Linked DNA regions of Homo sapiens. The protein of the gene in region 2 purifies or fractionates together with the protein of the main gene of each other region. This does not show direct contact. Each region holds a gene or a part of one and is shown on either strand. Other genes may lie near its edges. The genes, in order: AGPAT4, SLC2A2, FASTKD5, STX17, ABCC1, DOP1B and DYNC2LI1.

Evidence for each region.
Region 1: the proteins of SLC2A2 (region 2) and AGPAT4 purify together in Homo sapiens (affinity purification with mass spectrometry; one large-scale study listed by BioGRID and IntAct). This does not show direct contact.
Region 3: the proteins of SLC2A2 (region 2) and FASTKD5 purify together in Homo sapiens (affinity purification with mass spectrometry; one large-scale study listed by BioGRID and IntAct). This does not show direct contact.
Region 4: the proteins of SLC2A2 (region 2) and STX17 purify together in Homo sapiens (affinity purification with mass spectrometry; one large-scale study listed by BioGRID and IntAct). This does not show direct contact.
Region 5: the proteins of SLC2A2 (region 2) and ABCC1 purify together in Homo sapiens (affinity purification with mass spectrometry; one large-scale study listed by BioGRID and IntAct). This does not show direct contact.
Region 6: the proteins of SLC2A2 (region 2) and DOP1B purify together in Homo sapiens (affinity purification with mass spectrometry; one large-scale study listed by BioGRID and IntAct). This does not show direct contact.
Region 7: the proteins of SLC2A2 (region 2) and DYNC2LI1 purify together in Homo sapiens (affinity purification with mass spectrometry; one large-scale study listed by BioGRID and IntAct). This does not show direct contact.

The regions. Positions count from the first base shown.
Region 1 is NC_000006.12:161,134,078-161,138,336, forward strand, and holds part of AGPAT4 (1-acyl-sn-glycerol-3-phosphate acyltransferase delta), read right to left. Parts: intron 2,558-4,259; coding exon 2,463-2,557; 3' UTR 1-2,462. UniProt on the Homo sapiens protein: Converts 1-acyl-sn-glycerol-3-phosphate (lysophosphatidic acid or LPA) into 1,2-diacyl-sn-glycerol-3-phosphate (phosphatidic acid or PA) by incorporating an acyl moiety at the sn-2 position of the glycerol backbone.
Region 2 is NC_000003.12:171,023,717-171,028,720, reverse strand, and holds the start of SLC2A2 (solute carrier family 2, facilitated glucose transporter member 2), read left to right. Parts: upstream 1-2,000; 5' UTR 2,001-2,050; coding exon 2,051-2,065; intron 2,066-5,004.
Region 3 is NC_000020.11:3,145,554-3,150,159, forward strand, and holds the end of FASTKD5 (FAST kinase domain-containing protein 5, mitochondrial), read right to left. Parts: intron 3,708-4,606; 5' UTR 3,518-3,707; coding exon 1,223-3,517; 3' UTR 966-1,222; downstream 1-965. UniProt on the Homo sapiens protein: Plays an important role in the processing of non-canonical mitochondrial mRNA precursors.
Region 4 is NC_000009.12:99,944,176-99,948,434, reverse strand, and holds part of STX17 (syntaxin-17), read right to left. Parts: intron 1-4,259. UniProt on the Homo sapiens protein: SNAREs, soluble N-ethylmaleimide-sensitive factor-attachment protein receptors, are essential proteins for fusion of cellular membranes.
Region 5 is NC_000016.10:16,043,067-16,047,325, reverse strand, and holds part of ABCC1 (multidrug resistance-associated protein 1), read right to left. Parts: intron 2,877-4,259; coding exon 2,646-2,876; intron 1,491-2,645; coding exon 1,313-1,490; intron 1-1,312.
Region 6 is NC_000021.9:36,229,592-36,233,850, reverse strand, and holds part of DOP1B (protein DOP1B), read right to left. Parts: intron 3,402-4,259; coding exon 2,717-3,401; intron 1,048-2,716; coding exon 776-1,047; intron 1-775.
Region 7 is NC_000002.12:43,807,513-43,811,007, reverse strand, and holds the end of DYNC2LI1 (cytoplasmic dynein 2 light intermediate chain 1), read right to left. Parts: intron 1,304-3,495; coding exon 1,241-1,303; 3' UTR 998-1,240; downstream 1-997. UniProt on the Homo sapiens protein: Acts as one of several non-catalytic accessory components of the cytoplasmic dynein 2 complex (dynein-2 complex), a motor protein complex that drives the movement of cargos along microtubules within cilia and flagella in concert with the intraflagellar transport (IFT) system, facilitating the assembly of these organelles.

The DNA.
Region 1 (4,259 bases), on a different chromosome or scaffold from region 2:
GCTGCATAACAAAATTGTTCTTCGTGGACAGGTCAAATGACTGATGAGAAAGAGGTCCAGATCTCTCCCCAGCACGCCACATTCTCTTTCGGCTCTAAGGCAATTCAAAACTTGGCGCTCACTTAGTTATTTCCTAAGAGATTTCTGCCTGCATTCCTCCAGCCTGGAACCCAAGGCCCTAGCAGGCAGGCTGTTTGCTTGCTTGTGTGTTGTGTGATACCAGAGCCAATTCAGAAGAAAATTGAATGTCTGTGGGCCCCCGGATCTATGTTTTTAGAACTTACTTAGATTACTTCTGTGTTGAATGGAAGAATGAAAATGAGAAAAATAACACATTTTTAGTACGACAAGAAAATTTCTGAGCATTTTTGAGAGTAGCAACATAGAGGCAGCTTTCTAGTCTTTCATCCTTGGCTTAGTGCTTTAGGATTCTTAAAGTGTGCTCTTTTACCCTTGACACACCCCAAGAGGTAGATATCGTCACCCCCATTTTGCAGATGGGGAAATGAGTCAGCAAGGAAAAGTGTCTCACCCAAATCCTACAGCCGATGAGCTGCAGAGTTCAGGTGAATGGCGTAACTCAGCATCACGGACCCCTCCGAGAGACTGGCCCGATAATCCAGGCGCAGGTCCACTAGGGCGTGCTCACAGACACGCAAGGCTACACACCATGCACACCTCCACTTCTCCAAGGACCCCTCTTGCCTAAGGTCACGTCCTGGGCTTTTGCCCACAGATCTCTGCACACGGTGCTTCATGCCCTGTGCAGGGTGGGCAGATGTGCTGGGCGCTCCCATCAAGCCTGCCTGCAGGGCCGCCAGCGAGTTAACTCAGGCCCTAGGCTCTGCAGTACGCTCTTCCCACAAGTCAGCCAGGATTTTTTCCCTTTTTCACTTCTGTGGATTCAAATAATTCATTTGTATCAACAAACAAACAATGCATTATTGTCCTGTAAGCAGAGGGAGCTTCTCTAGAGCTGTCTTGTAACTCCTTGGCTTACCTAGTTTGGTTGATAAACAATGACTAAATGAGCAAATAGCCAAAAACATAACTGCATAGAATAGGCCTTATAATGTGTGGCCAGTTTTTGTATAGAGCTGTTCATTCCTTCTCATGTTACCACAGCAACACAGGCAGCTTTTCTCAGCAACTTTCAGCTGCGCACCTGGAGAAAGACATATCCTTCCTAACTCATGCTCCAAATACCTATCGGTCCAAGTGCCATTGGTGTCTTGGCCTAAGATGATTTAATAGCTAGCATTTGTTCTGCAAAAATAGCACTGCTTTTAGTTTCTTCTTCTTTTGCATTTTTGGCACCTGTTGGCTGACAGCAGTCTGCAAAGGCCGCTGGAGATGCTACAGGGCAGAACTATTCCGTGGAGTAAAATGGGAGCAGACAGGAGCCCGGAAGGAAGGCAGAAGCCTGGGGGTTTTTTGTACATGGGATGTCGGCTCTGATTTGACCCTCATCAGAGCAGGACCTGGCTCCTTTAGGGCTGCAGACAAGCTCTACATGCTGGGAAGGGGCGAGGCATTTTATAAAGTGAAACTGCATTTTATCAGGGGTGACTTTGGCTGTCACTGCTGAGAGGAACAGTCGATGCAAGCTCATCTCACAAATCACTGCAGAATGCCCAGGCTGTACGTTCATGATGTTTGTGTTCAATTTCAAGATCCATTTCTTCAGGGAGTTGGGTCCATCTTCAAGACTTACGCCAGGAGACTGCACTGCAGAGACCGAGCGAAACTCTCCCTTGCTGTGTGCCAGGGACACGCTTCGTTGGTCTCCACGCACGTGCTTGCCATCTCTGCTCTCACAAATGCTCACGGGCTCCTGGACCTGTGTCTCCTGCCAGGAGCTGTGCTGGCCTGCCCACCCCTCTCAGCTGCCCACACCTCCGCGGCAGCTGCCTCCCGTGAGTAGGATCTGAAACACCAAAGCCACGGGCAAGGGCAGGATGGAGGGGCAGCGGTCCATGTCAACATACACCACAGATGACCCAGAAAAGCACTTTAATTTTTTTTTCTTGGAGGCATAATTTAGTCATCTCACCTAAAGCACTTTTCACTTTATCTCTGGCAACCAAGGGTTACAGAAAACTCAGCACCAAAGGATGAAAGGGGAACTTGTCCCCTTCGGTCCCCAGCCCTGCCCTCCCCTGCAGCCTAAAATACCCTTTCTATGATCACAGAACAAAGTTCACACTCACCACACAGCCATTCTCACACACACTCGCACAAAAAGAAAACCAAAGCCCACTAAAGCACATGGGGAAAAAAAGATTACAAAACATCTTCCTCCCCATCCGGCCTTGAGACCAGACTCCCTGGCTGGAGAGGTCGTGACTTCCGCCGTGCCCAGCAGGGGCTCACCCAGCCTTTGTCACCGTGTCCCACTAAGGAGGATATGCAGAGGCCACCAGTTCCCCAAGGTTCCCTTCGGATGGTGACACCTCCCTGAGTCAGTCATTCAGTTTCTGCTTGCTGTCAGAGTTGCCGTAGGCAGAGCCCTTGTCAATTTCCGTCACACCAATCATCCATCGAACTCCCACGGAGGCTGCAGAGACAAGGAGAGCAGAGTTAGGAGTAGCCCAAACAGACTACAGGGCCGTTTTCCCACAGAGCAAGTGAGAAGGCCCGTGGCCGCAAATCACAAGCGCCAGCTCAGAGCTGGCTGGCGGGTTTGAGGTGCCATCATCCTGCCGGCTTTACAATCATCCTTGAGTGTGGACATCCATGTGACATTAAGACAAAGCAAGGCTGCTCTGGTGGGGGTTTTCCTCCTTGGACCCTGAAGGTGAATGATTTGGCAAGCCATGCACAGCCGTTCGCAGGGACTCAGAGAAATCCCTGGCTTCCTCTGCTGACCCCCAGGTAAAGAGGATTCTTTTGTGAATAAGGGACAGGAAGTTAACAGGGCATGTTCAGCGAAGTTTTATAAAGAACAGACCAGGAGCCTGGAAGACGCAAGAGCTCGAGTATCGAGTGCCCAACACGTTTCAGCACTGCTTTTGGTGCAAGCGTTAGAGCAGTGAGAAAATCCCCGCCCTCTCCTCTGACGGCAGGATTTGCCTACACCAGAGAATGGGCAGGACCCTCGTGGGAGCCCAGTTTAATATAGGAAGCTGGAAAGCAGGGCCTAATGCTCAGAAGTTGCAATTTCAACTACACCCTCTGGAGCGGGCAGATGTGGTGAGGTCCTTGGGTGCAGGGCCCAAGACTTAATCATTTGATGTGCTCAGCACTGGGCATGGGGCTTGGAAAACAGTCCATTTATAATACATGCTTAAGAATGGATAGACGAATAAGTGAATGAAATCCCCCAAATCATGATGCACAGGATTATCTAGCATTAGCATCGCGGTCGATAAACTAACTGGGACATGGATGCAAGAGCCTGGGATGGGCGAATCCAGCCCAGCCAGCAGGAGGCACGCATCTCCCATGGGTCATTTACAAACTGGAGGGCTCCTGCATGGAGCGTAACAGTAACAGTGAGAGTGGAGTTATTGTAGAGCAGAAAGAAGTGAGTAAAACGTGGACCGTGTGGCCTTGGAAGAGGAGTAAAGAACACAAACACAAAGTCCTTCAGGGAAGAATGCAGTCAGGCGCAGGCTCAGAGTAATGGGGCACGGCAGTCAGCTCCTCAGATGCTCCTGGAGACGCCGTGTCCACACTGCACCCCTCAGATGCTCCTGAAGACTCCCTGTGTCCACACTGCACCCCTCAGATGCTCCTGAAGACTCCCTGTGTCCACACTGCACCCCTCAGATGCTCCTGAAGACTCCCTGTGTCCATACTGCACCCCTCAGATGCTCCTGGAGACGCCCTGTGTCCACACTGCACCCTGGGCAGTGCTCAGGCTTCTTTTTTTGGTACTCGCTACACAGCTGGGTGGCCCTGTCTGCAGCCTTCATCCTGAAGGGGCCCCTCTCCAAGACGGCGTGGGTGTGTGTGTGCCTTGCTGTTGCCTGCTATTGAAGCAGAAGGGTTGAGCTTGCCCCCGCCCTACCAGGGGCCCTGGCACCTGCAGCTGCCCCGGACCCTTGGCCAGCCTCAGCATGGCGGGGCATGGGGGTGCCCCTGGACCTGCCTTAAGGAGATGAGGTGCTTTCTTCTCCAACCTCTTATTTTTTTCCCTTACACGGTGTGGGTGTTGTTTTAATATTTTAATTTTTAACACTAAAATACATCTTAATCTTTCAAAAGACTGTATAGTAGGGTCTATTTGAGGAACAGGAGCCAGCTTGTCTACTGCA
Region 2 (5,004 bases):
GCGCCAAGACACGCTCTCCTGAAAGGCTGGAATCGCTTATCAGTTCTCCGCGGGCAAAAGCAATCAGAGCATCAATGTAAATGAATCGCACCCCCTCCCCGCACGGAGATAAAGTTTTAGCATATCCCAGATGGTGCAGAGATTACTCATTCATTTCTGAGAAAGAGCAGAACCACAGAGGCCTTGGCTGAACCTGAGGAAACTGATCAGGGTGCCCCGAAGGCCCGCTAGTGAATGGCGGGTCGCGCTCCCAATGGGAGAAGAGAATGGTTTCCTGCCGCCGTGCTCCGCGCCGGCAGGCCGGGGCTGAGCACAAGAAGTTAAAGGCTCACTGGCCGCCCGCGCACTCAAGGCAAATTCCGTTTCTGAAAAGGCAGGTTCAAAAGACAAAGGTTGGTAAACCACACCGGTATCATTTACGACGCGGCACAGAGACGCTTTCCTGCAGAATGTCATGTCACTGGCAAATGCCATGGAACCGCTCCTGACTGTGGACCGCTCTGGCAATGGGGCGTGCTCATCACCAGCCAAAACTGATGCGGAAAGTCAGCGTGGCTAACTGGGCGCTTTAAAGTCTGACTTCAAAGCTGCTCCCCAAAGCTTGGCACTATGACACAGAGCACCTCATGTTATGACTAAACGAGTTAATCCATGTCAAGTGCTGAGAGCAGCACCTGGCACCCGGCAAGACCTCAGTAAAGATTAACCATCATTACTATTAATATTTGCTCACGCTTTTCCACTATGAAATTATTGTATTGTGTCTGCATTACATATGTCTCATCTTATATGTTATAAACACCTAGAAAGAGGAGGCTGTGACTTATTTATCTCAGTCATCTCGGAGCATGGAACTGTGCTGGACTCAGTAAAAGTTTGTAGTTTGATTGAATTACCTTCTCAAACCAAACATTTCAGGTGTGTCACCTTGCAGAGGTGACAGAAATGAAAACAGGGTGGCAAAATAAAAAGGTGAAATCTGAATCTCCTCTAATCCTTCATTTTCTCACCCTGTTTCTTCATAACACCCCTCATTGTGTTGCTGCTTGTTACATTTTTGTTCCGCTGGGAACTGGTTCCATTTGAGCCTCAGTGCAATCTGTGGCCCCAGTTGCCACACACACTTAAAGCTCAATAAATTTGATATCTCCTGAACCCCCACAGGGTTTGGATATCATAAGGGATACTTAGGCCCAAGATCAAGCCATATGAGCAGGTTTATTTGAGAACTCTACGTTAAAGCCTCCAGCAAGTGCTTCTTGACATATATGAAGCAATAATAATAACAACCGCTATTTGCTAAGTACTTATTATATGTTGAGATATGCCAAACACTTTCACATATTATCTCATTTAATCCACTCAACAAAACAAAATGTGTGTTATTTCTATTTTATCAGGCAAAAATAAAAAACTAATCAGAGAAAAGTCACAGTGAGCCACTTGCTTAAGGTTATACTCCCCAGTAAAATGTTGAGATTCAAACCCAAGTCCCTAACAATCCAAAGCTCATCCAGGTAACCATTCAAGTCAACAATGGTCTCCGGCCACACAGCTCAGCTCTAAACAGAAACACCACAGCACTAATTATCTGTGGAGCAGAGTGCAGTGTGCCTCCCATGCTCCACAGCACAGCACGGCAGCTCAGCATATCTCATCTTCTACAAAAGACTCCAAAGATTTCTCTTTTCACCAGCTCCCAATTACTGCCACATAACACATGCCTTGAAATGTGATTGCCTCTGGTTTGTAACTTATGCCTAAGGGACCTGCTCCCATTTTCTTTCCTAGTGGAACAAAGGTATTGAAGCCACAGGTTGCTGAGGCAAAGCACTTATTGATTAGATTCCCATCAATATTCAGCTGCCGCTGAGAAGATTAGACTTGGACTCTCAGGTCTGGGTAGCCCAACTCCTCCCTCTCCTTGCTCCTCCTCCTGCAATGCATAACTAGGCCTAGGCAGAGCTGCGAATAAACAGGCAGGAGCTAGTCAGGTGCATGTGCCACACTCACACAAGACCTGGAATTGACAGGACTCCCAACTAGTACAATGACAGAAGATAAGGTAAAGCAGCATTATATTCATTTCAAGTCTGGTTTTCAGGAGATAGTTAGGGGAATACAGTCAAGTCATACAGAGGATTTGGGGGAGGTTGGGTGTAGCTACCACAGATCAAAATTAATTCTCTTTACTTTGCCAATTGAAGAACTGTTTCTTATTCAGTAATTGGGGTTTTAAGGATTTTTGCTCTGTTAACTGACTAGTCTGCATAAGTTTTTTCAAGTAATTGTGCATAACCATATTACTAAAGAAATATGTCCCCTCCTAACCAAAAAAAAAAAAAAAAAAAAGGGGGCAGATTGACCTAAATTTAATCATGAAAACTCATCGGGAATCTTCAAAAACGTCAATGCAGGAGAGACAAAAGAGGTAGAAGGGTTGTTCTCTAGATTAAAAGGGATTAAGACAAACTGACAACCAAATGCAACAAATGATTTAGATTGTGGAAGGAAGAAAAAAATAGCAATAAGGGAACTATGGAGACGTTGGGAAATTTTAAATATGGGCTGCATCTTAAATAATATTACTGTATCAATTTCACACTCTTGGATATAATAATGGTATCTAATTATGTAGGAGGATGTCTTTGTTCTTTGTACATGCTAAAGTATTTAGGGGTGAAATGACACAAATATCTACAGCTTATTTGTAAATGGTTCAGCCAAAACAACACACACACACAAACACTACAGAGCGAGAGATCAACAAATTGGTGAATGTTAACCAGTGGTGAATAAAGGCGAAGGTTATGGAATGATCACTTCACTACTGTTTCAACTTCTCTCTAGATATGATACTTTAAAAAAAAACTTAAAAATATAAAGGATATAGTGTCCTTGCTCCCTTATACGTGGTTTCTAAACTCACCCACCCCTGTACACACAATCATATAAGTTGATCAATCTGTGCCCTGTAGGGTCTCACCTTTAAGTTCTCATCTGGTGCAACTTACTCTGCTGAACATTCCTTCATGTCATTAGATGGCATGGTTAGCTGCACTGGCTTTGGAGTCAGCCAGACTTGGATCTGGGTTCTAGCAATGCCACTAAACTGCTGTGAGGCCTGGGTTAAGTTATTTAACTGAGCTTTGGGTTTTCTCTATTGTGAGAAAACAAAAACATATTAGGATACAATATACCCTTTATAGGCAAAGAAACTTGGGCTCAGTGATATAATATGGGATATTCAGGGATTATACTAGTACTTTAGAGTTAGGGAGTAATTAAATGAGATTATATTAGAGAGGCTTAGACAACAATTTTAATGTTAATAGTTATATAATTATTAATAGTGTTAAATACATATTTAAATAGTATTTATAAATTATAAAAGATAAATTATATTATAATGTATAAACACTTTAAATACATATTATATAAGCACCATTTATATGTTTGATATTTAAAGTTAAATATAAAATGCTATTTATATAGCATTTATATAGTATGTATTTAAAGAATAATTAGCACATCATGATTTCATGAGTATTATAGCCCAGGATAAAGCTAAAGTAGTTAGAACTTTAAGGTCAATATAAAGACAAACATTAAGTTAACAACTACATAGATGGTATGTAGATTTGGCAAAATTCATGAAGGTAGTAATCAAATAACTAAAGTTTGAAAGCTACTGCAAAAAGGAAGGTAATGTGCTTAACATAGTGTCTGGCACATCGCAGATGTTCAAGATTCATTCAAAACTATCATTAATTTTCTTAGGGGCTTTTGAAATTACGTTGTAGATCTTTTCTTGATAACCAAGGAACTGCCTAACAATGGAACCCAGAAAGAATGAGAACTGAGGTAGTGCAATGTTTTTCAGCTTTGTGAATCTATCCAGACTTTGAAAGAAGTAGGATAAGCAAGGAACTGGGGTCAAGAGACCTGAGTTGTCACACTGAATATGCCCAAAATGCTCACAGAAATCAGACAAATGACATAAACAACTTGGCCTGTGAGACCTCAGTTTCTACAACTGAAGAATGGAGGAATTAGACAAGAATCCATTGTTCTCTAAGGTCTCTTTCAACTTAAAAATTCTGTGACTTGATAAGCCCCTGGCTTTTTCCAAAGTTGCATGCAAGATCACCTTTGGTTTAGGTTTTGGAGACATGTAGTTTAAAGAAAAGGGTATAAGCTTCTCCTCCCTACCTAGTCAATCAGTAATTGCTGGAAAAATCTGCTCTTCAGGTTAGCAGTGGCGTTTAAGACCATCAGCTCTCGGTTCCCACACTAGAGTATCTGTCACCAGCTGTGTAGTGTTAGGTATGCTCCTTAATCCTCTCTGATCCCTGGCTTCCTCACCTCTAAAATAGGAATAATTTCATGTACTTTGTGGTATTGCAAAGAGTATCGGTAAAGTATGAAAAGTTGACACATGGCTGTTTGACAAAAGAAATGAATGAGATGATAAAGACATGATTAAAGATGCATTTGTTCTGTAGCCCTTTTACTGTTTATAGGAAGACCACATTATTTATCTTAGTTTTTACAGTAATCCTATGCATTAACTAGTTTTATACCCATTTTATAGGCAAAGAAACTTAGGCTCAGTGACGTTAGGAGCCTAGCTGGGACTCTTTTGGAGCTTTTCTGACTCCCACATCTATTTGTTTTTTTCTAATAGACCCTATATGACTTATGAGCCACAATATAAACACTACATTGTTTTATGTTGAAGTTCAGCCATTTGCTTATTCTACCCTTCCACATTTATCCAGCAGCATATTTTAAATTGGATATGAAATCTAGTTTCTCTAACTTAAAGTTATTAAGCTCCTAATGAAGGTAGCATTTTTTAAAGTGCAAGCTGAACACCTTATAGCCTATGAGGAAGTTAGGAGAAAAGGCTTGAAGATCTTCTGCACTTACTAGGTTATGTGGACTTTGGACAAGCTGTTTACTCTTTCCATGTGAGCTCCCCCATATGTGAAATGATAATAA
Region 3 (4,606 bases), on a different chromosome or scaffold from region 2:
CCAGCCTCCTGAGTAGCTAGGACTGCGGGGGCACACCACCACGCCTGGCTAATTTTATTTTTTTGCAGAGGCAAGGTCTCACTATGTTGGCCAGGCTGGTCTCAAACTCCTGGACTCAAGCAATCTTCCCACTTTGGCCTCCTAAAGGCTGAGATAACAGGCATGAGCCACCACATCCAGCATGAGATTCTTATTTTAAAACAAGGTATAGGCCAGCCACAGTGGCTCATGCCTGTAATCCCAGCACTTTGGGAGGCCAAGGTGAGTGGATCATCTGAGGTCAGGAGTGTGAGACCAGCCTGAACAACATGGTGAAACCCCATCTCAAATAAAAATGCAAAAATTAGCTGGGCGTGGTGGTGGGCGCCTGTAACCCCAGCTACTCAGGTGGCTGAGGCAGGAGAACTGCCTGAACCTGGGAGGCAGAGCTTGCAGTGAGCCAAGATCGCGCCATTGCTCTCCAACCTGGGCAACCGAGGGAGACTCCGTCTCAAAAAAAAAAAAAAGGCCAGACGCGGTGGCTCACACCTGTAATCCCAGCATTTGGGAGGCCAAGGCAGGCGGATCACCGGAAGTCAGGAGTTCAAGACCAGCCTGGTCAACATGGAGAAACCCCGTTTCTGCTAAAAAGACAAAAATTATCCAGGTGTAGTGATACGCGCCTGTAGTCTCAGCTACTCGGGAGGATGAGGCAGGAGAATTGTTTGAATCTGGGAGGCGGAGGTTGCAGTGAGCTGAGATTGTGCCACTGCATTCCAGCCTGGGTGACAGAGCGAGACTCCATCTCAAAAAACAAACAAAAAAACTGGCTTTAAAAAAAAAAAAAATCTGTAAGGGTGGGGGGAGGGTCTCCAGAAAAGAATAAAATTTTTAAAAATTGGCTTTATATAATGTCTGACTATACTTTTATTCTAAAAACTCTGTGACATAAGGCTGGTAAACAGAAAGAAAAATCCAACAAGGACTTACTTGACCGTAGGACATATTAAGATGTTTATTATTTACTAAGAGTAACATGTATACATTTGCAGTAATTTGTACAATCCAACTACATTACAATTCACAGTAACATACACTAGCTCTAACCTGCCTTGGATACAATTAAGTCTCCTCAACACACTATTTTATCGCCAAACTTACATTCTGGCTTTTATAATCATTTTGCAACACCTGGTACAGTATACACCTATAGCTTTGCCATAGAAATGCCCCTAAATGCCCTTCAGAGAGCAGAGGTGAATACTTTCTCATGAAGAAACGCCAACTTTTCTAAGCGAGTTCGTTTCAGTAGTGGGAGCCATTCCCAGTAGGATAACTCTACCACACGGTAGCCAAGCCGAGCCAGCTGCCGCCTCTTCATATTGTGCAGTCCAAGGAGATCCCTGGAGCCATAGCAATACTGGTTCCTGTTTGTGAACTGAACAGCCAGCTTCATTCTTGGGGTCTGCATGCAGGCTGCGGGGCACAGGCCAGCCATCTCCATGGCCCCTGATTTATCTGCTACATTGCAAAGGAAGCCCCCCAGAGGTACAGCTGCCTTATTCTCCAACTCCATGGGCTGCTGCCCAGGCTCTGACTCAGTTTTGCCCTGGAAATGTCCTCTTGCTTTCCCTTTTAGTAACTTATTCATCAAATCATCTGTAAGGCTGACTCCCACATGCTCAAGCCTTAATTTGGCTACATTTTCAGCCGGCGTGGCTTCTCTATTAAATGGTAATGGCTTCAGGTTAACATCAAGCTGGACCTCTAAGTCAGAAGATCGGGTATGAGGCAAAATCATATGGTGCTTGACGTACTGGGGCCCCCCCAGCATGGTCTCCAGTAAAAAGACAGTTTCTAAGAATTCAGGCTTTGAATTCATATCCTTCTCTGCTAAATACCACAGCAATTCAGACCCCTCTTGCTGAAGGTGAGTACTAAGACGATTGCCTCTGTAATCTGGACACTCAATGCCAACTGTACCATCGAGGGTATATAGTTCCTTAAGGAGGTCAAACTTAGTTCTCTCCTGAGCTAACCTGACAAACCCTGGACTGAGAGCGAAATCAATTAACTCTACTGGAAAGTACTCCAAAAATGCCAGGCCCAGCAGGCAGGTGGGCAGGTGTTCTGGGTACTGGTTGAATTCAGGCATCTTTCTGTGAATCTCACTTATCAGGCTGGAGTAAAATTCTTCTGCATTGGGTGGCTTATAATTCAGAGTTCCAAATGACCACAGAATCTTGGCAACATCTTTACTTCGACAGTGTGCCACTCTAGGAGGCAAAGACGCAGCCACTGCATTCATTACTCCTTCATTCAGGAAGCGTAAGGCCGAGCAGTAAAGAGTCAGGTGCATGACACCTTGAACTCCCAGGGAAGGAATTCGCTGAGGAGCTATCTCTCCAATCTGCTTCATGAAATTGATGTGATCCACGTGAGTGAAACGGAACATTTTAACAATATTCACTAAGGAGCGACTACTCAGATGCTGAATGTTAGCACAAGCCAAGTCTCCAATTTTCCGCATGACAAATTCAGAGAGATTAGTACTTGATTTAAAGAACCCCAAACAGATGGTACCAACCTCCTCCAAATTGATCAAATCTATATATTTAAGGATCAATGATTCCAATTTTTGCATTAGGTCCTGGGATACCTGACGATTTTCACCTATAACATAAATTAAGTGAACTAGCTGAGACAAGGATAGATCCTTCCAGTGCAAATTAAGATAACTAGAAAAAATGTTTAAAAACCTAGGTACTTTGCGGCCTAAGTACCTCCAGAGATCAGCCACCAAAAGGAGCTGATCCATATTCATCTCCCATACCTGATGGCAACACTTGGTCTCATACACATCTAGCATTGAATGGGAGTGAGGGATTCCTAAAATGACAAAAGCTTTCAAAACATTGATCAGATCTTGGGTATCAAAGAGCTGTATCTTCTTCACACTCAGCTGGCAGAGCAGAGCAAAGCTGGTACTGCCCAGCAAGACAGGATGCTGCTCTGCAGGCAAAGAGCTCAGCTTACACAAATAATCAACAATGACTTGAGCCTGGAGATTATTTTGATTAACTCTGACTTTGTGCAAAATTAGTTCACCTTCTGAAACAGACAGGAGCTGAGAAGTCTCAGATGCATTATAGCTGTGAACACGGTATTCTGGTCTTAGCTGTAGGAAAACTCGCATGTTTTCAAAGGAATCAAACACTTCTACGTCCTCTTCATCAACTCCTGTGGCCCTGGGTGAGCCCAGCTGCAATGTACTGGCCTTAGAGGAAGAAGTCTTGCTGAATTCCAAACCTGGGTGGGCACTGCTGGTTGTCAGGATTCTCCGAGAAGAGAAGGTGCTACATATGTTCTTAACTTTTTTGGCAGAATGGCAGAGGCTAATGTGTTCTGGAGGGTCCTGTCCCCCATGCTGTGTGCTGCTCACATTCCAGTATGACACACTTCGGACTGCACCAAAGGCAGAAGGACTGCAAAATGCTCGGTATCTTACAAGTTTTAATGACTTGAGAGTAGCTGCCATTCTGGTGTCAGTATTGATCTCTTTGGCAGTCAGAATACAGTCCTCACAGATTTGACCAGGCAATTTCTTGTTTATATGGTGCTTGATTAGAGCTGGACGGGGAGGTGTTCCACAAAAACTGCCTGGAAATCTTCAGCATATCACAAGAGCCAGGGATCACAAATGACTGGGTCAGAATTGGTGCCAGATACTGAAAAAAGGGTAGATGAAGAATGAGTGGCTTCTACCTATAAAAGCATCCAAATTTACACATTATAAAAAACAGGTTGAAACTACACTGCTGTCTACTCAAATAAGTTCAATGCTAGTAAATGCCCAAACCACATGACAGCATATATCAAGGATAAATTCTGCGGTCTGTGTAAAGGCCTAGGAAAACCCCCAACCCAGGGTACCCGTGGGCAGTTCCTGGACTGCTGCTCACCAGACTTCCTTCACTGTACAAGGCAAGCAGTGACGGCTAAAGAAGAGACGGTGCTCCGCTAACATTTGATAGGAAGAAGGAAGGCAGATTTCTAGAAAGAAGGCTGGGAACAAAAGTGAGCAACTCCTTCCATCTCTTTGATATCAAGGCAAACAGGTCCTACCTGAAGAATGTTTATAAAAACTGCTATGCTAACAGCACTAAGTAAAAAGTGGGATCTGGTATAAAAGATAATTAGTTGGCTGGGTGTGGGTGGCTCATGCCTGTAATGCCAGCACTTTGGGAGGCCGAGGCAGGCAGATCACTTGAGGTCAGGAGTTCAAGACCAGCCTGGCCAACAAGGCGAAATCCCGTCTCTATTAAAAATACAAAAAATTACCCAGGTGTGGCAGCACACACCTGTAATCCCAGCTACTCAGGAGGCTGAGGCAGGAGAATCCCTTGAACCCAGGAGGCAGAGGTTGCGGTGAGCCAAGACCGTGCCACTGCACTCCAGCCTAGGCGAAAAAGTGAGACTCCATCTCAAAAAAAAAAAAAAAAGATTTAATTAGTTATACCTACGATAACCCTCCCTGTTCTTATAGCGCAAAACTGTTAATTCCAAAATTCTGTCATTCTAATGCTGTTCTTTTACTTTTTAGAAGATGCCTACTCTCCTCTTCAGG
Region 4 (4,259 bases), on a different chromosome or scaffold from region 2:
TAATGCAAATCACACACACAAGCCACATATGTAATTTAAAAATTTTTTAAATTACATTAAAAAAGTAAAAACAAGGGAAATTAATTTTAATAATATTTTATTTAACCTAATATAGCTAAAATACTATTTTAATATGCAATTATAAAACTTAAAATCTTTTACATTGTTTTATTTGTAGTAAGTCTTAGAAATCTGGTATATATTTTACATTCACAGCACATCTCAGTTCAAACTGGCTACATTTTAAGTGCTCAACAGTCACATGTAGTTAGGAGCTACTACATTGGATAGGGCAACTAGGGAATCTCTCTAAAATCAAACAGAGGGAACAGGATGGTAAAACCATATATGAAGAACATAAAGTCAGGTGTTTCTGCTTCTGAAAACAGCAGGCTAGGTGATTCAGACTAACCTTCCCACTAATGGCTACTTCAAAAGTTGAACAAAAATCAAATCACAAAACAAACCAATAGGAAAAAAAAAAAAAACTTGAAAAGTACCATAAAGCAAACAAGATAGTAAGTAACTATAGGACAAGAATTGGGCAAAGATGGAAATCTAGAGAGGTGAGTCCTGAACTCAGGACCACATTTGCTTTGGGAGTATTTGCATACCAGAATATAAACTCACAAAGCTTGGATTAAAATTTCAATGCCAAGACCTGCTAAGTATAAGGACTCTGGTACTTTTGGCTGGGATCGTCAGAGCTCCACCCTAGGAACACAGGTAATCCTAAAATAAAGCAGCCCTTGCATGAACTACAGACTGGCCTCCAGTCTCGAGTAGCTCACAGAAAACCTTAAGCTCTAAAATTGGATAAAGATAATCTTGGAAAGTTAGTGCCCCCAGCGGCTTAGAAGAGCAAATGAAAATATCTGGAGGAAGATAACATCATCCCTAGCTTCAAATAATTTCTATAAATAATGTTTCAAATACAATGTCCACCAATCAAAGATTACCAAGCACATGAGGACATATGCAGCATGAGGAAGAAACAGCAAAAACAACAGGCAACAGAAACATCCAAAAGGACATGTAATGAGGGAATGAGCAAATGTAGTCTACAAAACTATAGTTATTTTGTTCAAAGGCATAAAAATAAAGCTTGAAAATTTAGCAGACAATTGGAAACTATAAAAAGCAACATATAGGTTTTTTAATGAATATTCTATAATTTTAAAATAATGTCCACAAGAATTTAATAATTGAGTTTAGCTTCATATTAGGCCCAGTTCAAGAAAGATATAAATTGGAAAACAGATCTGAAGAAACTATGTAAAAAAGAAACAAGGAAAGTAAAAAATATAGAAGAAAAGTTAAGAAATACAGAAGATATAGTTAGAAAAGGGTACAATATACATTTACTTAGAATTCCAGAAGAAGACGGAAAATGAATTTGAATAGATAATGACTGAGAATTTTCAAAACATTGAAGAAAAACATCCATCCACAATTCAAGGTCAACAAATCCTGAGAAGAATAAATAAAAGGAAAAATACACCTAGCCAGAAGAGAGAAAAAGAAGGAGAAAAGATGTCTAAAAGCAGCTAGAGACAAGAGTTTCTTGCAAAGAAACAGTAAGATTATAATACGACTTCTCAACAGCAATAACGAAAGCCTAAAGACAATGGAACAAAATATTCAAAGTATAGAAAGCAAATTACTATCAACCTAAAGTTCTATATGCTGCAAAAATATCTTTCAAGACCACAGGTAAAATAAAAATATTTTTAGACAAACAAAAGCTGAGAGAATTTGCCTTCAGTCAATAACACACAGTAAGAGAAATATTAAATGGTGATCTTCAAAAATAACAATTAATCCCAGATAAAAAGTTGGAAATGCAAAAAGAAATGAACAGAAATGAAAATATGCTAAAAAGTGGGTAAATCTAGATGACCAGTAACTCTACTAAAACAATAATACTAATGTCTGTGGTGTTTAGAAATATTTATATAAAAGTAGCATTTAAGTTGCAGGGCATACATGGAACTAAAATAGTCTAAGGAACTGATATTATCTGTACTTCTAAGTTAAAGATGTACGTTGTAATTTCTAGTAAAAGTATATACATTTATTCCTTGGTATCCATGGAGGATTGGTTCCAGGACTCCCTGCAAATACCCAAAATCCATAGATGTTCAAAGCCTTACATAAAATGGTGTAGTATTTGTGTAAAACCTATGAATATCCTCCTGTATACTTTATCGCTAGATTACTTATAATACCTAATATAATATAAATACTATATAAATTGTTATACTGTACTTTTATAGAGAACAGTGACAAGCAAAAGAGTCAGTACAGATGCAACTATCCATTCTTTTTGTTTTTGTTTTTGTTTTTGTTTTTGAGATGGAGTCTTGCTCTATCGCCCAGGCTGGAGTGCAGTGGCACGATTTTGGCTCACTGCAACCTCCGCCTCCCAGGTTTAAGCGATTCGCCTGCCTCAGCCTCCCGAGTAGCTGGGATTACAGGCGCCAGCCACCACGCCCATCTAATTTTTTTGTATTTTAGTAGAGATGGGGTTTCACTATGTTAGCCAGGTTGGTCTCGAACTCCTGACCTCAGGTGATCCACCCACCTCAGCCTCCCAAAGTGCTGGGATTACAGGCGTAAGCCACCGCGCCCGGCCGCAACTGTCCATTTAAAAAAAAAAAATTTTTGTTCCACAGTTGATGAAATCCTTGGAGAAGGCTCAAATGTAGTTCCTAAACTAGAAAGGAAAAAATTAGATAAATTAAAAAAAACAAGATCAATACAAAAGAAAGTAAATATGGAGATTTAAAAAATATGTTTAAGAAATAGCACACAATAAGGTGAAAGATTTAAACCTAAATATATCGATAATTACATTAAATAAAAATGAAATAAATATTCCAGTTACAGGATAAAGATTTATAGACTGAATTTTAAAAAACTTAAGCGATTGTATCTAAAACATAAAGAAAAGAATGGTTCAATGTAAGAAGATGAAAAAGATAAACCACTTTAACCCTAACACCTCCTCTCCAAAGAAAACCTGCTGCGGCAATATTAGAAAAAACAGACTTTAAAGCCAAAACATTGCTAAAAATAAAGAGAATCACTTTATAATATCTGTACCAGGAATATATAATAATACCTAAGTTAAGTACACCTAATAACATACCCACAATACATATAATGCAAAACCGGACAAGAACTATAAAGAAAAATTGAAACAAATCCACAATCATAAGGGAAAGCTTTAACACCTTTAAGTAATTAACAGAACAAATGGACAAAAGGATGTTAAGTTAATATAGAGGATTTGAACAATAAGTTTAACACAAACTAGATATAAATTATATAGAACATTATACCAAACAAGGTGAGAATACACATGTCAAAAACACACAAATACACATGGAGAACAATTATAAAAATTGATTATACACTAAGTCTTAAAGGAAGTTTTGACAAATTTCAAAAATATTGACACTGATATCATACAGACCATATACTCTGATCATAATAAAATTAAACTTGAAATCATTAATAAAATATATCTATAAACATTTCATGACCAATAATGAAGAAAGACATATTTCTAAATAACCCACAAGTCAAAGAAATCACAATAGAAATAAAAAATGCTGGCTGGGCGCAGTGGCTCATGCCTGTAATCCTAACACTTTGGGAGGCTGAGGAGGGTGGATCATCTGAGGTCAGGAGTTTGAGACCAGCCTGACAAACATGGCGAAACCCCATCTCTACTAAAAATACAAAAAATTAGCCGGGTGTGGTGGTGGGCACCTGTAATCCCAGCTACTCGGGAGGCTGAGGCAGGAGAATCTTTTGAACCCAAGAGGCGGAGGTTGCAGTGAGCCAAGATTGCACCATTGCACTCCAGCCTGGGCAACAAGAGTGAAACTCCAACTTAAAAAAAAAAAAAAATGCTTTGACCTGAATGAAAAGAAAAATAATGCATATTTAAACCTACAGGCAGCCAAAGCAATACAAATTTATAGCTGTAACTGCATATATATATATTAGAAAAGAAAAAAGGTTGAAAATTAGTAGACTGAAAATCCATTGCAAGAAACTAGAAAATAGTAAAAACAATTGCAAAAAAAGTAGAAAGGAGAAAATAATAAAAATGTAAAAATAAATTTGATGAAACAGAAAAACAAACATAATACAATAGATTAACCAAGCCAAAACTAGATTTTTGGGAAGACTAATAAAATTGATAAACCTCATTGACAAATAATTTTAAAAAATAGAGAAGGCATAAA
Region 5 (4,259 bases), on a different chromosome or scaffold from region 2:
AGCGAGACCCTGTCTCAAAACATAAAAATAAATAAAAAACAAAAACAATGACACCTGGGTGCCACCACAGCAATCGCAATTTCACTGGTCTGGTGCAACCTAGGTGTCAGGAAGTTTTTTTGTTTTTTCAGACAGGGTCTCATTCTGTCACACAGGCCGGAATGCAGGGATGCTATCAGGACTCACTGCAGCCTCCAACTCCGGGGCTGAAGTGATTCTTTTAACTCAATCTCCTGAGTAGACGGGACTACAGGTACGCACCACCATACCTGGCTAATTTTTTTAAATTTTCTGCAGAGCCAGGGTCTTGCTATATTGACCAGGCTGGTATTGAACTTCCAAGCCTCCAGTGATTCCCCCACCTTGGTCTCCCAAGCTGCTGGGATTACAGGCATGAGCTACAGTGCCTGGCCTGCATCAGTTTAAGCTCCCCAGGTGAGTCTAATTCACAGACAGGCCTGAGAATCACTCCTCTAGTTCATCAAGTACCTGCAAGACTGTCTCTTCCTAACCTAGGAGCCAAGCAGTTTCCTTGACCTCGAGACAAAAAAAAAAAAAAATTTATAGGGATCAAGAAGGTAATTTAGGTCCTTTGAAATTGGATGTACACAAATGCCTGCTACATACTCTTACCATGCAAGGAATGTGCCACCTGCTCAGTTCAAATTAAGAGTGACAACAGGCTGGGCGCGGTGGCTCATGCCTGTAATCCCAGCACTTTGGGAGGCTGAGGCAGGCGGATCACCTGAGGTCAGCAGTTCAAGATCAGCCTGGCCAACATGGCGAAACCCTGTCTCTACTAAAAATACAAAAATTAGCCGGTCGTGGTGGCAGGCGCCTGTAGTCCCCGCTACTCAGGAGGCTGAGGCAGAAGAATCGCTTGAACTCAGGAGGCAGAAGTTGCAGTGAGCCAATATCATGCCACTGCACTCCAGTCTGGGGGAGAGAGTGAGACCTGGTCTCAAAAAAACGAAAAAAAAAGAGTGACAACAAGCTGAAACACAGAATGTTAACAGCAGAATGAGGATCCAAACTTGGATTTCCCCACAACAAGGGCCACTGATCCATCTAAGAAACTCAATTACTCACAGCTGATACACAAAGACATCTACACGCCCACCCTTGAAATCAGCTTTCCTAACGTACAATGCCTGATGCGTGCTGTCCCTGCCACCTAAGGTCACGGAAGCTACCCTCATCCTACTGCTCCAGAAGCTGGGCTGGAAATCCCCACGCTGGCCCCAGAGTAACCCAGGGCTGCAGGAGGGGATGTGGAAGTCGGGCCACATGCCAATGGCACAGCGTCCCCTACCTTCCGATAGACAGCCCCAATGACAGCGGTCTTGATCCTCATGCCACTGACGAAGCAGATGTGGAAGTACTGGTGCAGCACGAGGGTCTGCAGGCAGGCAGTGACAAACAGCAGCACGGTGTAGAAGTAGCCCTGCCAGTCTGGGGCCTTCGTGTCATTCACGAACTTGATGAGCAACCTGCAAAGGAGCAAAGAGAGGGCCTGGAATGACTTGTGACACGTGGGGGCAGGGAAGAGAGCTTCAGTGTTGGCACTGCAACTTTCTCCTGAGCCAGATGAGCTAGACACTATCACTTCAATTTCATAGATGGAAAAACAAGTCCACAGTGGTGATCTGGCTGTGCAGGTGACCCAAACTGCTCATAAAAGAGGCCTCTGCCTTGGGGTTGTGCACTAATTGCTCTAGCTATATCTCATCACCAGCAAGTCACCCAAAGGAATTGCATAGGGAACACGAGGTAAAGAGGTAGGGAGGAAAAGAGAAGGGATGTGTAGCCCCTGAGTCACAGAGCAGCAGAGAGCCAGGTAGGAGAGAGGCAACTTCCTTTCTGACTCCCCAGTTCCTGGTTGCAGTTTTTTGTTGTTGTTTTTATTCTTTTTTTTTTTTTTTTTTTTTTTGAGACAAAGTCTTGCTCTGTCGCCAAGGTTTGAGTTCAGTGATGCAATCAGCTTGCTGTAACCTCTGCCTCCTGGGTTCAAGCAATTTTTATGCCTCAGCCTCCTGAGTAGCTGGGATTACAGGCGTGCACCACCACGCCCGGCTAATTTTTGTATTTTTAGCAGATGGTTTTACCATGCTGGCCAGGCTGGTCTTGACCTCCTGACCTCAGGTGATCTTCCCACCTCAGCCTCTCAAAGTGCTGGGATTATAGGCATGAGCCACTGCGCCCAACCCTGGTTGCAGTTTTTTCATGAGATCTGCTGGCATTTCCTTGCTCTTGGTTTCCCAAGACAATGCCATATCCTCCCCATTTGGGTTTTAGGGGAGCCTAGTGGGTTTCTGTTACTTGCAAACGATGTGGTCTTCACTAATATGGTAATTAAGTAAAGCATAAAGTAAAGCTAGGCAGTGACCATGGCTCACATCTGCAATCCCAGCACTTTGGGAGGCCGAGGCAGGAGGATCGCTTGAAGTCAGGAGCTCGAGACCAGCCTGACCAACAAAGCAAGACCCTGTCTCTATTTTTTTCAAAAAAGCTAAAGTAAAAATGGAGACATCTGGCTATGAGCCCACTTCAGGACACAGCATGACCCCAGGGTTATGACTGATGCAACTGAAAGATCAAAGCCAAGGAGGGAAAATGGAGCCCACCTGGGAGGGAAGGGGTCTTACTTTAAGATCTGCGGCCCGGAAAACATCATCAGGTCGTGGATGGCCTTGAAGAAGAAGCTCATGAGGAAGTAGGGCCCAAAGGTCTTGTATAACACCTTAAACAGAGAGGGGTTCCACTCCTTCTGTGGGGACTTGACGATCAAAGCCTCCACCTCCTCATTCGCATCCACCTTGGAACTCTCTTTCGGCTGGGCAGGATCCTTGGAGGAGTACACAACCTTCACCGGCTGCCTGGAACACAAGGAGGTGAAGCCGTTGTGGGGTCTGCCAGAGATGCAGCCCCCTACCACAGGGACATGGCCAGGGAATGTCACCCTTCAGGGAAGGCAGAGTCAAAGACAACAAGCCCAGGGAAAGAGGCAGCTCAGCACAGTGGTTACAAACACGGGCTCCAGAGCCACGGGCTCCAGAGCCACCGGCTCAAGGTCTGGCTTGGCCACTGGCCAGCTGCGTGACTTCAGACAAGGTCCTTAAGCTCTCTGGGCCTCAGTTTCCTCCTCTGTGAAATGAGGATAAAAGTAGGACCTACCTCCAAGGTAGGTAAGATTAAACGAGTTGAATAAGTTAAAGACTTAGAAAACTGATGGCTCCAAACTGATCTAGAGTCAAGGCAATCCCCATCAAAAGCCCAGCTGGCTGCCAGGTAGAAATTATGAGCTAACTTTAAAATTCACATGGAAACTCAAGGATCCAGAACAGTCAAAACAATCATGAAAAATAAGAATCAAGTTGGAGGATTCACACTTCCTGATTTCAAAACAATACAAAATAACAATCATGGCCAGGAGTGGTGGTTCACACCTGTAATCCCAGCACTTTGGGAGGCCAAGGTGGCTGGATCACTTGGGGTCAGGAGTTTGAGACCAGCCTGACCAACATAGTGAAACCCCATCTCTACTAAAAATACAAAAATTAGCCGGGCATGATGGCAGGTGCCTGTAATCCCAGCTACTTGGGAGGCTGAGGCAGGAGAATTACTTGAACCTGGGAGGTGGAGGTTGCTGTGAGTGGAGATCAGGCCATTGCACTCCAGCCTGGGTGACAGAGCAAAACTCCATCTCAAAAAGAAAGAACAACAATAGGCTGGGCGCAGTGGCTCACGCCTGTAATCCCAGCACTATGGGAGGCCGAGGTGGGCAGATCACCTGAGGTCGGCAGGTTCAAGACCAGCCTGACCAAACATGGAGAAACCTCATCTCTACTAAAAATACAAAATCAGCCCGGCATGGTGGCACATACCTATAATCCCAGCTACTTGGGAGGCTGAGGCAGGAGAATCGCTTAAACCCAGGAGGCGGAGGTTGTGGTGAGCTGAGACCACACCATTGCACTCCAGCCTGGGCAAAAAGACTCAGTCTCAAAAAGAAAAAAACAAAACAAAAAAAAGAACAACAATCATCAAGACAGGTAAAGGGATAGGCATATATACATCAGTGGAAAAAAAAAAAAAAAAAAAAACAGTCCAGCCAGCCAGAGCAACACAGCAAGACCCTATTTCTAAAAAAAAATTTTTTTTTTGACTGGGTGCAGTGGTTCATGCCTGTAATGCCAGCACTTCGGGAGGTCGAGGCGGGTGGATCACTTGAGGTCAGGAGTTTGAGAACACCCTGACCA
Region 6 (4,259 bases), on a different chromosome or scaffold from region 2:
CAATGAGCAATTAAGTAAAAGCTCCCCCAGGACCTGACACCGTAGATGGTGTCCCACATGGAACCAAAGCTGAGCGGTGTGAGGAGTTCCACAGACAGACCCTCTCCCAAGCAACACAACCATAACTGGTGAAAATTATTTTAAAACCAACAACAACCAACCATTTAGAGTCTGGAAATTATCCAAAGGACATTCAGGAAATAAAGAAACATTTATTCCGGAAAACCTACGACATTTCGGTCAAAGCAGCAAGAGTCATGGCACTTGAGCCATGACCTGCTCATCATCTCCTTCCTTCCCCAGCTTAGCTCCATGGAAACGTCACTATCCACTCTGGTGCATGTGGCCAAGCAAAAGGGTGCTCTCTTTCCCCAGCTCCCAGTCAAGGGCTTTTGCACCTCCTGGGAGGGGCAGGCCACCAGCACGTCACCTTCCCACCCCTCTGCTGGATGTGGCAGAGGCTAAATCCAGGTGAGTGCAGTGGAGGAGTCATGGGCTCCCTGCCTCCACCCAGACCCCACTCCCAGGCAGGGGTTCCACTCAGTCCTGGCAGGCCCAGAATACTGGGGCCCCAGTTGCTCTCACTGTAGCTTTCCTGGAGGGTGAAAGTTACATGCTGGGAGAGGAAGACCAAAGGCTACTGCCTCTGCCCAGTGCCCTATAGAATATCACTCTCAGAGAAGTGGGCCACTGCCCCCATCCCCAGCAATACGGTTCTGAGTTTTGCTCAGGGGGAGAAGGAGGCCATAAGAAGAGTGTTCCCAGTGGGAAATACCTGATAGAAATCTGTTTTCTCTGCAATGACTTTCAATATCCCTGGAGCAATGGGAGGAACCGTCACCATCTGCAGCTTGCCAAAAAAAGGGTTGTGTCCAGAGCTCTTATAGCGTTTCATCTTGTCTTCAATGACAAGCGCCAGGGACTGGGAATGGTTTATCACTTCCAGCAGAGTGGAAATGGCCACGTTCTGGAGGTAGCAGTCAGTCACACAGCAGCAAATAGTCATGAGGGACTTCAGCCAAGATGGAAAACTGGAATCACCGGCTCCTGAAAGGAAGCCAGCCGGAGAGGCAGAAACAAGCAGAACCACGTGAGAATGGGTCCCCAGTCTGCAGATTCTACAGCACCCTAGATCTGGGAAGTTACCTGAGAAATCCACCTGGACAGCAGTGCGCTAACCTCCCGCTGGTGAGACTTATTTGGAAATAAGGTCCTTACAGAGGTAATCAAATTAAGATGAGGTTGTTAGGGTGGGCCCTAATCCAATATGACTGGTGTCCTTGTAAGAGGGACATGTCAAGGGAAGACAGGACATACAGAGGACACCCTGTGAAGACAAAGGCAGAGACGGGACTGATGCAGCTGCAAGGTGAGGAGCCCTCCAAGGGTTGCCGGCCAGCACCAGAAGCTGAAGAGGCCAAAAAGTATTCCATCCAGGGTCTCAGAGGAGGAGTATGGCTCTGCTGACACCTTGATCTTGGACTTCTGGCTTCCAGAACTATGAGACAAATTTCTCAGTTTATGGTACTTTGTTAGAGGAGCCCTAGCAAACCAATATATAAAATATTGGCCAGGCACGGTGGCTCATGCCTGTAATCCCAGCACTTTGGGAGGCCAAGGCGGGCAGATCATATGAGGCCAGGAGTTTGAGACCAGCCTGGCCAACATGGTGAAACCCCATCTCTACTAAAAATATGAAAATTAGGGGGCCAGGTGCAGTGGCTCACGCCTGTAACCCCAGCACTTTGGGAGGCCTAGGCGGGTGGATCGCGAGGTCAAAAGATTGAGACCATCCTGGCCAACATGGTGAAACCCTGTCTCTACTAAAAATACAAAAATTAGCTGGGTGTGGTGGCGTGTGCCTGTAACCCCAGATACTTGGGAGGCTGAGGTAGGAGAATCACTTGAACCCGGGAGGCGGAGGCTGTAGTGAGCCAAGATCGCGCCACTGCACTCCAGCCTGGCGACAGAGCAAGACGCTGTCTCAAAAAAAAAAAAAAAAAAAATTAGCTGGGCGTAGTGGCACGTGCCTGTAGTCCCAGCTACTGGGGAAGCTGAGGCAGAAGAATCACTTGAACCCAGGAGGCGGAGGTTGCAGTGAGCTGAGTTGGTGTCACCACACTCCAGCCTGGGCAACAGAGCCAGACCCTGTCTCAAAAAAAAAAAAAAAACAAAAAAACCCAACACAAAAAAAACTTTATCAACAGGCATCATGAAATAGTCTATTTACTATCACTGAATGCCACTCATGTTCTAGGTCTTCTGATGGGCTGTGCTGGACACCCAGGGTTTAAAAACATAGGCCCCACCCTTACCACTTTGCCATGTGGTGAGACACAAGTCAAAAATGTACTAATTACAAATGAGGAAGGGAACAAATGAGGCCAATAGCACCTTCTTGGCTTACACAATTTGAGCTAGTCTTTAAATATAGGTTGAGAATCTCTAATCTGAAAATTCCAAATCCAAAACCTGAAACCTTATTAGCACTGACATGATGCTCGAAGGAAACAGTCACTGGAGCTCTTGGATTTTGGATTTCTGGATTAGGAATGCTGAATCGGTAAGTGTAAGGCAAATATTCCAAAAATCTGAAAAAAGTCCGAAATCCAAAATACATTTGGTCCCTAGCATTGTGGATAGGGGATATTCCACCCACGTCAATCGCCTCATCGTATGATTCCCAAAGAGGGACTTCGGCAGGGCTGCCTCTCACCTGGCAGCTGGAAGAGCGTTGCACAGAGCTGCTCGGTCTCTTCCTCGGACAGGTAGACAGGGAAAGTGGCACAATCCAGCAGCAGGTGGCAGGCGGCGGCAAAGGCCTCCCTGCGTTCCTCCCTGGAACCCCCCAGGTCAATGACCACCTTCTCAACATCCCATTCTCCCCCGTTTTTCCTGGCAGGGCTGCTGGGCGAAGACGATGGTGACTCTGAACTTTTTGTCTTGAATGGAGACCCTCGTGCTGTGAACAAGTCTGACAGCATCTGCTTGAACTGAGGCACAGTGATGGGCTTGGGCTCCCAAGAGTTCTTCCTGCTGGAATCATTGGCTGCCAGGCTCTGCGTCCCATCCCTGTCCCTCTTCCCTGCAGGCTCCTCGGACTTGCTTTCTTCTCCTGACGCTGTCAGCTGTACTCCAAAAATGTTCTTGCTGGCAAAGTTGGCGATTAGCTCTTGGATGCAAAGAAACGTCCTCTGCATGCTCCCGCCCTTCTTCCAAACGTCGTCCCTTTCCAGAGAAACTCGAGGAACCCTCAAGTGCTCAGAGAGCTCCGGTGACGAGGCACTGAGCCCGATCCCACTGTCCTCAGACTTCAGAGGGGGAAACGAAGCATCTTCGTCACCGGGAATCACTGCCTTTGTTTCCAAAATTATTTTGCCGTTTTCACCTTTTACTGGACTCTGTAAAAAATAAAAAGATGTGAATTGTGCATCTCTTAACACCAAGCTATTTAAGTATCAGTTGAAATCATGAATGTATTTCAATTCTGTTTTTCAAAATCATCACTCTCCAGACTAGAGAATCCCTGTGTTAAGTGTATAATGAAATTTAGGAGGCACCCAAAGCAGGAGAAGGAGAGCGGTGGGTAGCAAAGAGGAGGCTGGTACACCCACATGCTCTCTGGGGAGGCTGGCTTTTGGGCCTATTTTTCTTGTGTTTTTGTCTAAATATATAACCCCTTTAGAGTTCAAAAAAGTTGTTTAAGAATTGTTTCTGCCAGGCGTGGTGGCTCAAGCCTGTAATCCCAGCACTTAGGGAGGCTGAGGCGGGCGGATCACCTGCCACAATTCTCTGGACAACAGAGCGAGAACTGTTTCCGACAAATTAACAAATATGAATGAGGAAACTGAGCTGAGGGTAAAATAAAGGTATGAAGAAATAAAATAAGGCCAGGTGTGGTGGCTCATGCCTGTAATCCCAGCACTTTGGGAGGATGAGGTGGGTGGATCTCCTGAGGTCAGGAGCTCAAGACCAGCATGGCCAACATGGTGAAACCCCATCTCTACTAAAAATACAAAAAATTAGCCAGGCATGGTGGTGGGTGCCTGTAATCCCAGCTACTTGGGAGGCTGAGGCATGAGAATCGCTTGAACCCATGAGGTGGAGGTTGCAGTGAGCCAAAATCATGCCACTGCACTCCAGCCTGGGCGACAGAGAGAGACTCTGTCTCAAAAAAAAAAAAAAAAAAGGTAAAGCAAGTCAGAGAATAGTGTACGTTATGGGTTGAACGGTGTCCCCCAAAAATAGGTTGAAGTCCT
Region 7 (3,495 bases), on a different chromosome or scaffold from region 2:
AATGTTAGTGATAGCACCTTAGAAAAACACAATGGCTTTCAACATGTGACAGTTTGTGTCTCAAGTCAAAAATGGACAGTGATGTGTAAGAAAATCAAATTACATAATAACAATTCCTATTACTCTTGTGGAATAGGCTGTTTCTTCCCACCAAGTCAGTGATGTTTCTGAGATCATAATGTTCACTGTAAATTTAAAGGGATTTCTTTTTCCATAGCACTCAGCAAGAAACGTGTGCTAAAGACTGAGGTTCCTTGGAAACATGCTGAAAATTCTGTTCTCAAGGGTGTCAGAACCATACGTACTGCAAATAATTTATGAAGTCCTAGTTCATTGCAATAAGCAGATGGCTTGCTATCTGCTCAGACAGTACTCCCTTGGGGTAGTAAATGTGCTTATCTGAAGCTGGGAGTCAATATATTTTGTATGTGGACATGGAAGAACATAGAATAAATCATTTTTAATCATAGCAATTATACTTACTCAAAATGAACTTGGCTAGCAGGTACACACATCTACAGATTGGAATGGCTTCTTAAAGGCTATCCCACCTTGGAAATAATCCTGGTTATCCGCAACACATGATGTTTTGTCCTGCTTCTTGATAGGATATCTCCTTAGATGTGCCTGTTCTTCAAAAAGTGGTATTTAAAATAAATGTGTCAGTCTCACAGCAGGGTGAAATTGGTGCTGATTAAAAATGCCCCATTCCAGACCACTGATGGCGACACTCTAGGTGTGGGGACCTGGGAATGTGCATCTCCTATTTCAGGTGCTTCTTGCGCCTCACTGTTAAGAGTAAAATTTTGACATCTGTGAACCCAATTCCGGTTTCCTCCCAGCTACAGCTGAGAATGCCTTTTAGAAAGAATGTGTCTAACGTGGGCACTTAACCTTGCATTTAAAACTGTAACCAAATACTCTTACTTTTATATTCCTAAAAACATATAAGCAGAAACTTATACATGCTGAATTGAGTATATACCACTTAAACATGTTAGAGGTAGGTAGTAGAAGATTCTTTTATTTTAAAAAAAATTACACGTGGTTCTACAATAATTTTTCCTTTTAAAAAGCTTCAAGATATACAGGGAGATGCACTAGTCCAAGAAATCCAGCTTGTCCTTTAACAAATTATACAGTTTAACTTTCTTCACATATTGCCACAATAGTTAATTCACAGTATAATCTTATTTGTATTTGGAAAAGAAGAAATAAATATACAATAATTGAAATAGGTTCAAGAATCAAGCTCGATTTGTTTCCAAGACTTGGAAGAACTTCTTTTGTACTGTTCCAGTTCCTAAAACAAAAATATGTATCACTTTAAGAAAAATCAACTTTACTAATTCAAGGAGGCACCTTAAAACTGCCTTCTCATTTTTTAGATATATCAATGAATCCTTAGTAGCATTATCATTCTAAATATTTCTTGCCAATTATTTTGTAAATGATTATGCTTAGGACTTATTTTCTAGAAATACTGTCTTCAGAGTTTCTGTGTGGCTAAGCAGCACTCAGAGATGAATTTATTAAACTTTCAGACAAAATTATGTACATAAACTACATAATACATATGAATTGTCTTTCAACTAATGAACTAGACATCTGTCATCCTTCAAGTATTCAAAAGTGATCTTATTTTAATTGTTTGCTGTTCAGCTCTAATCAAAAACTTGGTTGAAGTTAGCAAAATATTTAAAAAATACATACCCAGGCTGGGTGCGGTGGCTCATTCCTATAGTCCCAGCACTTTGGGAGGCTGGGGCAGGAGAATTGCTTGAGCCCAGGAATTTGAGACCAGCCTGGGCAACATAGGGAGACCGTGTCTCTACAAAAACTGAGAAAAATAATTATCCAGGCATGGTGGTGTGCGCTGTGGTCCCAGCTACTTGGGAGTCTGAGGTGGGAGGATCGCTTGAACCTGGGAGGCCAAGGCTGCAGTAAACTGTGATTGCGCCACTGCACTCCAGCCTGGGTGACAGAGTGAGATCCTGTCACAAAAAAGTGTGTGTGTGTGTGTGTGTGTGTGTGTGTGTGTGTATCCTTTGTCCCAGTGATTTTACTTTTAGAAATTTATCATCCATAACAATAGAGCAATGCACAAGGATGTAAAAGAAGGAAACCCATTGCTCTGTCTCAGCACAACTGGAAACAACTTTGATGTCCCCCAGTAAGGACTGATTAAATAATTAGCGTTCATTCACAGGTGGCTTCCAAGGCAGCCAGCAAAAATAACAGTGGCCACATGAAAACATAATGTGTGCCACATGAAAAAAGCACACAGATAGGGAGAGGGCAGGATACTTCCATTTTCTATTTTATATACATCTATCTATAGCTCTTGAATTTTTTCACAAGGAGTATATCTTACCTTTACAATTCATAAATAAATTTTAGTGGAGGTGGCTATCCTGCACAAGGCAACTGACATGTAAAAGGGACCATCTAAGGGGATGCCTCTTGGCCTCCTACATGTTGTTCAATGTCTAAATAACTGTACAAAGGTTGTCACTACTTCAAATAAAACGTGGTTACTCTGCAAGATGAGGCAATCAATGCCCTTTGGCTAACATAACTGAAGTTCACAGTTGCTATGAAAAGAAAATCCATTCTAATTTTCAGAAAAATTGCAGAGCGTACCTTTCATACCTATACCCTAAGTTACTAAAATTTAAATGTTAAATGTTTCAAAATGGTATATAGACTTAGGAAGAATTTTTCCTTGTGTGTTTTTTTTTTTCCTTTAACTTCCTCATTGGATTCTAGGAAGAATTTTCATGGTAATAATCATATGTAGTCTTTACAGCTTGTTTTATTTTTTTCTAATAAAGCTAATTCAGTTCACCAGTTATCTACCACTTGCGGTTTTAAAGATTAACTCATAAAGAATAAACAAATTGTTTACTGCAAACTTTGTCTTTAACTGGAAGTTAAATTATTTTTACCAATGACAAAGGTGAAAATGTTGTTTTGAGATTCTTTGCTGGTAGTATCTCCCTTTTGCAGACAGCAGACTGTGAGAAAACTAGGGCTATCACACAGGCCATGCCAGAGGGAGAAAAAGGAATAACCAATATGAGACAAAAACCACCAAGTCCACTAGATCTTCAACATGACAATGATACGGCCTCAAAATAATGCATTGATGTTTTAAAGGGATAGCAAGTAAAGTTTTCCGAAGATAACTGTGGTTGGCCAAGAAGACCTTAAAAATAAATGTTAACTGTAACCTTTTTTTTTTTTTTTTTTTTTTTTTTTTTTGCTTTAACAAAAATAATAGAAAAGAAGCTGGGCACAGTGGCTCATGCCTGTAATCCCAGCACTTTGGGAGGCCAACTCAGGAGGATTGCTTTAGGCGAGGAGTTGAAGACCAGCCTGGGCAACAAAAAACAAAAAAATTACCCGGGCATGGTGATGTGTGCCTGTAGTCCCAGCTACTTGAGAGGCTGAGATGGGAGGATCCCTTGAGCCCTGGAGTTCAAGGTTGCAGTG